Linked DNA regions of Homo sapiens. The protein of the gene in region 2 interacts with the protein of the main gene of each other region in a pairwise test. Each region holds a gene or a part of one and is shown on either strand. Other genes may lie near its edges.

Evidence for each region.
Region 1: the proteins of CLDN14 (region 2) and PLLP interact in binary tests that used the Homo sapiens proteins (3 or more experiments, as listed by UniProt).

Annotation. Positions count from the first base shown.
Region 1 is NC_000016.10:57,278,073-57,281,672, forward strand, and holds part of PLLP (plasmolipin), read right to left. Parts: intron 1-3,600. UniProt on the Homo sapiens protein: Main component of the myelin sheath that plays an important role in myelin membrane biogenesis and myelination. Plays an essential function in apical endocytosis. Regulates epithelial development through the regulation of apical endocytosis.
Region 2 is NC_000021.9:36,477,914-36,482,031, reverse strand, and holds the start of CLDN14 (claudin-14), read left to right. Parts: upstream 1-1,909; 5' UTR 1,910-2,537; exon of another isoform or gene 2,538-4,118.

The DNA.
Region 1 (3,600 bases), on a different chromosome or scaffold from region 2:
CTCATGCCTGTAATCCCAGCACTTTGGGAGGCAGAGACAGGCAGATCACCTGAGGTCAAGAGTTCAAGACCAGCCTGGCCAACATGGTGAAGCCCCGTCTCTACTAAAAATACAATAATGAGTTGGGTGTAGTGGCAGGCACCTGTAGTCCCAGCTATTCGGGAGGCTGAGGCAGGAGAATGGCGTGAACCCGGGAGGCGGAGGTTGCAGTGAGCTGAGATTACGCCGCTGCACTCCAGCCTGGATGACAGAGCACAAGAAGAGCTCTCAGATGCACCAAGTATGAGAAAAGCAACTTGCTGAACAAAGGATACAGAATAAAACTATCAATGTTTTCAAAAGTGCACAGGAAAAAAGACTAGAAACACCCCAAATAGTTGTCCCCTTAGGGACAGAGGTGGGTAATCCAACTACAGCTTTAGTGTAATCTGTACAGGTTTTTTTATTTTGTGAGGAGAATGTATTCATATATTCATAATGTAATTACACATTAATTCCCAAACACTCAATACTCCCCCCCTTGCAGTAAGTGGGGAGTGTGGGGGGAACTAACAATACAAGGCATTTATTGCTCTGTGCAGTGGAGCTGGGTTGGATGAAGATATTGGGCATGCGGGGCCTGGAATGCTGTACTAAAAAGACTGAACCACCCACAAATCTCAGTGCTAAGGGAAGCCCCGGGAGTCTCAGACATTGCAATCCGAGTGTGACCAAGCCCTGCTCACACCTCACTCGGACTCCAACAATCTCATCTAGGTAGCCCCTTCCTGGAGACCAGAGTTGGCTTTCAGTCCCTGCCCTGCCCTTCATCTGCAGAGGAGCTGGTCTGCCTCCTGGGGCCGGAGACAGAGCCGGTATCACCATAAGGAAGAACTTTCCAACACTCCCAAGTGCCCAAGGATGGAGCAGGCAGCCTTAAGAAGAACTGAGCTCCCTGTCTCTGGAAGCATGCAAGTTCATGTTGGAGATGCTGCAAAGGCACCTCTTATGCTTGCATAAGAACCCTCGGATCCTATAACCCTGTGAATCCAAACTGTCCTTCATTCCCACATATAGTGCTAGGCTAGCTCTTTGCAGGCATGATCTAGATCCTGCCATCACCATCTGACAGACAAGGAAGTGAGGCTCAGGGAAATTTGGGAACTCCCCCAGGATCATGCAGCCAGAAAGGGACAGAGCCAGGATTTGAACCCAAGGCTCTCAGCGTCCAGGCCTGTGTTCCCATCAGCACTCTCCATGCCACCCCATGGATCATGGAGATCTAGGGAAGGCTTCTCTTCTTCTTCTTCCTTTTTTTTTTTTTTTGTTAAGAGTAGAGGACTGGGTACAGTGGCTCACACCTGTAATCTCAGCACTTTGGGAGGCCAAGGCAGGTGGATTGCTGGAGCCCAGGAGTTCGAGACCAGTCTGGGTAACATGATGAAATCCCATCTTTACAAAAAATATAAAAACTTAGCCAGGCATTGTGGCATGTACCTGTCGTCCCAGATACTCAGGAGGCCTGAAGTGGGAGGATCGTCTGAGCCTGGGAGGTTGAGGTTGCAGTGAGCTGTGATCACACTACTATAGTCCAGCCTGGGTGACAGAGCAAGACCTTGTCTCGAGGAAAAAAAAAAAAAAGTAGGGGTCTTACTCTGTCACCCAGGCTAGAGTGCAGTGACGTGATCATGGCTTACTGCAGCCTTAAACTCCAAGGCTCAAGCAATCTTCCTACCTCAGCCTCCCAAGTAGCTGGAACTACAGGCATGTGCCACCCTGCCACCTGCCTAGCTAGGTGAGGCTTTTGATCTGTTATTCACCTGCAAAGTGGGAATTGTGTGGCCACCCCCAATCCCAGGAGGTGGGGCAAAATGGAAGGACAGAAGGTACCAAACCAAATGGCCTTACCGCCACAGGGCATTCACACAGCTTCCACATCCTGGGCCTCAAGGACGCCTACTGACTGACAGGTCTCTGTACAAGCTCTGGTCTGTCCTGATCCTCCTTCTCCCTTCCTATGCCAGGAAGCCCTCCCTGATGGCCTTGGCCCCTGATGAGTCTCCCTTCCTGCAGTCCCCCTTTTCCCCCTAGAAAGCACTCTAGAACTTCCCACCCCCAAAGTAAACAAGATGAGGAAGCATAGCTAGAGCCAGGTTTTGGATTTCCAGATCGAAGTGCAAAGCCAAGCTTGCCACTCTATCCTGTGTGACCTTGGACAAGTTCCTCACCCTCTCGGAGCCTATTTACTTATCAGTAAATCCAGATAAGATCATCCTTCTCCCCACGGCTTGGGGAGGCTTGAAAAAATGAGAGATGGGCACCTAACAGCACTACTTTATACTTATTGTAAAAAGGCTTTGGGAGCTCCCCATAAGCAAATAACCACGCCTTCTGCATTCTTCCACCTGAGCTACACAAAAATCTGTAGCACTGATGCCTTTTTTTTTTAAAACCAAAAGAGTTATCTGTAGATCAAACTTGCCTGCCTTGTGACATGAATCCATTGGCAAGAGAAAACAAAACAAAACAAAACAAAGACCTGCCTCCTTTTTTAGACGCTATCTGCATAGATTCTTCATGTTTCCCTTTTTGCCTAGGCTGCTAGGAAGTTCAACAAATAATCAACAGCCTTAAACTTGCTGCAAGTCAATTCTCCCCTCCACACCACCAGCTTTTAAAGATACATCGCTTTAACTCTTCTGTCTTATGTGGTTTAATATCATATTCCATCTGGTGTTCTTTCTGAATCTACAAGGAATAACGATAGTGATAAATCAATGAACACCACCAGACATCTGTGAAGAATACTGAGATTGGTTCTTCAGGACACATTCTGATACCGAATGAAAAGTGTATCTCCTTCTCCAGGAGCTGGGAGCCTTTCTACCCACCTCCCCTTCCTCCCACCATACCAGGAACATTCATCAAATCCTGGGAAACAGAAGGGTTTGATGGAGAATTAGCTTCCATTTTCTCATTTATTTCCTGCTCCATGCAGCCTTCTCTGATCCCTCTGGGAGAAGCACATCCTCTGGGCACCTCTCTCACTGACCAAGAGCTCCTGGAAAGCAGGCTGTGGGCCCAGGGTCCCCACCACTCCCTCCATAATGACAGATCCTGGGAAGGTAGCAGCAAAGCCACACGTGGTCATTAAGACCATAGGCCAGAAAAGTCAGAAAAATCACTCCTGTGGAGGAGGGCTGTGAGATCTTGGGCAAAGAACTGGCCTCTGAGCCTCAGTTTTCTCACCTAAAATGGGGCCGACTAAGAAGATCTAAAGGCCTTGGCAAAGGGCCTGAGCCTAGTGCTGGCCTGATAGATGGGAGCTACCATGGCTTCCCAGCAGATGGTGGTGCCTGTTGGATTAACCCCCACATATCCCATTTCAGACCCAGTGGAACTACCTGTTGCCAGAGAAACAGCTCAGGATGCAGCTTCTCCAACAAGCAGATTTTTTTTTTATTTCTTTTTTTTTTTGAGACGGAGTCTCTTTCTGTCTCCCAGGCTGGAGTGCCGTGGCGCCATCTCGGCTCACTGCAAGCTCCACCTCCCGGGTTCACGCCATTCTCCCGCCTCAGCCTCCCGAGTAGCTGGGACTGCAGGCACCCACCACCATGCCAG
Region 2 (4,118 bases):
CCTGCCCACTCAGGGAGAGGATTGGGAGAGAAGGGCTGGAGACTCGGGACCAGCCTCTCTACCCCCTCATTTTCCCTCGCTCTGTGTGTGCCTGTGGCCCTGACCCTGAGAGGCAGGAGGGGAAGGTGTAGTGCTAGCCAGGCTCCCTGCTACTCATACGTGCTGGAGTCCAATAACTATTTGATGAACGAAGAACAAATCAATACCTTTCTATTTAGATTTCGTCACATCATGTTTCTGTGACTTTGCCCTCTGGTCCAGGAAACACTGTTTTATCCAAGAGGAGCCTTGGGCCAGGGTCACAGGTCAGGGAATTTTCAGGCTTCAGCCCAGAACAGGAATGACTTGTTCCAAAGAAAATCAAGACTAATAAAGATTTCACAAAATATCTACAAAACAGAACGTTACGTCCATTTCATTCACTGTCACAGTGTAATATCCCTAAAAACTATCATAATATTTTAAAGCAATTTGGAGTTTACATTTTCTCTCTGCGGGGTTTCCTAATAATACACAACGAATGCCAAGAAATCAAAGCCAGTTGTAAACTAAATGTAATGAACTTGTAGCCAAATCATCTCAAAGACAAAGTTATAAAAAATAATTTCTAAAAAGTGCCCAGCATAAAATTATAGATAATATGGGCACATTTTACTATTATGCTGGTACCCCTATATATTCCAATATTCTTAAAATGGTGTTCAGCAAAGGCGATGATTCTATCTCCAAGTTAGTTCATTCCTTTAACAGTTTCATTTCAGCCTGTGTAACTGCTTTAGGTGGGGTGGAGGATCTAACGAAAAGGTCTATTTCGTTGTCAGGTAAAATTCTGCGTGGTTTTACGTAACTTTCCTGGCATAGATAGTGAAATAGTATATCTGGTGGGAAACCTCTAAGGATAGAGGATCTGGGCCTATAAATGACCTGAACCAAAGTTGTTTTTGTTTGTGACTGTTCACTTCCAAAAACAGACCAAAAAAGCTATGCAGATGTGGGTTATGTCAATCCTCCATCAATAACATTTAACAGATGCTTCCGAATGCCTGCTCCAAGCTCCTGACACTACTGGATGTGCTGTCTTTCTGTCCTTCACCGTCCCATTGCCAGGGACACAAGGGCCAGGCTTTTGGTCCATGCCCAGGGCGTTTGTCCACACCAGATTCCTTCGCTGCATCTTTTTTTTTAAACACCAACCAGAGCCCGGCGGATTGATGCACACTGTGGAAGACACGCAGAAGCCCAAGTAAGTCCCTGGCCCTGGAGCATTTGCGGTGTGCTCAGTGACGAAGGGGCGGAAATTCTTGTCATGTTAAATCCATGGCTCTCAGCACACTTCTCAATTCCAGAATCGCCCACAACGATTTTCAAAATTGAAAAGGAACTGGGATTTGTGCCTTGAGAGGGTCCCCAAACCTTGGAGCCACTCAGGGTGCTGGCTTTTGGCTACACATTCCCACCAAGAGATTTCATTCTTGCAATTTTCAAGGCCAAACATCTCTTAATCAGCGAATCATTCCTCAAAGGGCTGGAGGCGTTCCCAGCCCTGACCAGTTCCCTCAGCCACCCTCAGGTGCTGCCTTCACTTCCAGCAGAACTCTCCCTAGCCCTCCTGGACATCGCTGTCAAGCAAGTGTCTTGACCTTCCAAGAAAGTCACCTTCTTCCGTCAGCACTGGTTTCACAGTATGCCATGTCTCTTATCTCCAACTTGTAGCAAATTGTCCCTCTTTCCACACTGTGCTCCTTGACCCGTCCAGCTCCACATTCCACCAACAGACCATCCGAATCACCCACAGCTGCAGCTGTAGAAAAAAGCAAACAAACAAAAGCAGTTGCTCGTTGATCAGAATCGACCAGCATGCATCTAGGGCCCATAGCAGCCTAAAGGCTGAGAAGCTGAGTTACTCAATAGCAGAAAAGTCCAAAGCAGTGTGAGGACAACCGCCAGGTGGTGGCTCAGAGGAGGACACAGTCGCTGTGGGCAGGTGGTCAGGGCGCAGGAGGGAATGAGCTGTGGATTTTTAGTAATCTACAACAATCAGGCAGTTCCAGGACACAGGGAAGTGAGTGTGAACAGCCAATGGACCCGGAGCCGAGAGCCTGGGCAGGCGTAGGCTGGACTATGGACGCCCTGCAACCCTGCCAGGCTGGGAAGGGGAGGCTTGATCCTGAGCGCGTGTTAGGAAGGAGATGCCCAGGTTCAGGTGTATCGTGCATTTTTTTTCCACAGTGCAGAAATGACATTTCTGGTTGGTCTTGAATGTCTGCTCTGGCCAAGCCACCTCCTCTCATGCTAGCTAACCAAGTGGCACGTGTGCCCACGCAGGCCATTCTAAGGAACACTGTAATTGTCTAGACAATTTTCTCTCAAATACTCCGTCCTGGAAGCGTCTGGTTGGCAGAAGAGGGAAGGCAGGAGGGTGGCAGCGTCCCGGCTGAGTCCTCTTGCACATGGGAGCTGGAGTCCAGCCAGGCTCCAGAGCGGCTCCGGCTGGCAAGGGACCTGAACAGGAAGATGAGACTCGAGGTTTTCTGCATGTGAGTTTGGGGTGAAGCTGTGGATGTGGGGTGGGCGGGCTGGGGTTGACAGTCATCTGTTTTGGAAGCCCTTAGGCCCTGCCGGTTAGATGTGCATGCAGCCAGGGGTCCGAGCGTTCTCCAGAGGAAGGGACCGTGCTGGCCCCTACAGGAAAGGAAGCTGCAGGCTGGTCTGGGTGGCCTCCAGAGGACCCCACGCAGCTGGCATGAGGGCAGCCAGGCTCCTAATGAGCCAGGAACGACAATAATCCAGTTCCTGAGTGTTTGGGCAGAACTCTTTTCATCGCTTACCAGGCCTGTTTGGGAGGAAGGACTGAATCTGTTCAGTGTTTTGAGGCCACAGCTCAGCTCGGGGAGCTCAGCGCCACTGCCCCCTTCTGTCTGCTGGGACTCCCTCGTTTTTCTGCAAAGAGGGCCAGGCAGACTGTTCCGAGTTTCCAGACTTGGGAACATTCTCCTGCTCCCTAAATACACCCCTGCCCTCCAACACAGACACATATTGGCATGGCAGGAGAGGGGGGGAAGTGATAGATCTCTCTCAATGAGGGTAAAAAATGGTGCTGAAGAGGAGAAATGCCATGCAATTTGAGACGTGAGTTAATCCTTCAGTTACCTGGGGCCCCACATCCCCAACAGCTGCCACGGCTTCCCAGGATGGGCAGGAGGGACCCAGGCAAAATAGAAAAGGAACCAGGATTAGTGTCCTGAGACCGTCCCCAAACCTTGGAGTGCTGTCCTCACTGGCTTTAACTGGGTGCTGGCTTTAATTCCCGCAGTGTTCAAAGCCAAACATCTCTTGATCACTGGGTTTCATTTTTGAAGTCTTGGGAAACCAGAGGACAGTTCATCATCGTGTGCTTCCAGGGGCTGGGCCCAGGTCTGCTGTGAAAAGATGCTGTCATCTGAGCTCAGCGTTCATGCCCGTGTCTCTCAGTCACTCACTGGAGTTGGGGACGGGCTTATCTGTTAGGATGATAAAACTTCCATAGCATACGCCTTGCATTTGCTGGTATCTGTCCCAAAGGGCTTGTCAGTTTTTACATATATTATCTCAGCATCTTCTAGATGTCTCTGCAGAGGAGCTATTCCTATGTAGACAGTCATTCCTGTGTAGACAGTGAGTAATAGGCTGAGCAGCTTGCCCAAGATTAGTCAGAATTGAAGCCAGCGCCAGCCCCCATCCTTATCTGGCTCCAATCTGATTTGCATATCTCAAGCTTACTGTGTTTTATTTACCCATCTGTATAAAGGGTTCAATGCTTCTTAAGACATCTACAGAAAAATCTATAAAAAGGAAGACACGTAGATTCTTCCTTTGGTGCTATGAAAATGTCACTATTAAATATTTCCTGTTTTCCAGTTAGTTTTTAGTTTTTAGGTAAAGATCAATAAAATGGAATATGTCCATTATTGTTTTTAAAAAAATCATTCTGTTGCCTATATATCAGAAAAGATCTTTCATTACGCAGAGTAAGAAGTCTAAAAGTCTGTTTTCAAGGCTAGTGCCAATGTGTTTTTAAAACGCAGGTGGCCAGCCTTGCCAGTTCAGGAATGATTCTTGGCGTTTTCAAACTCAAACGT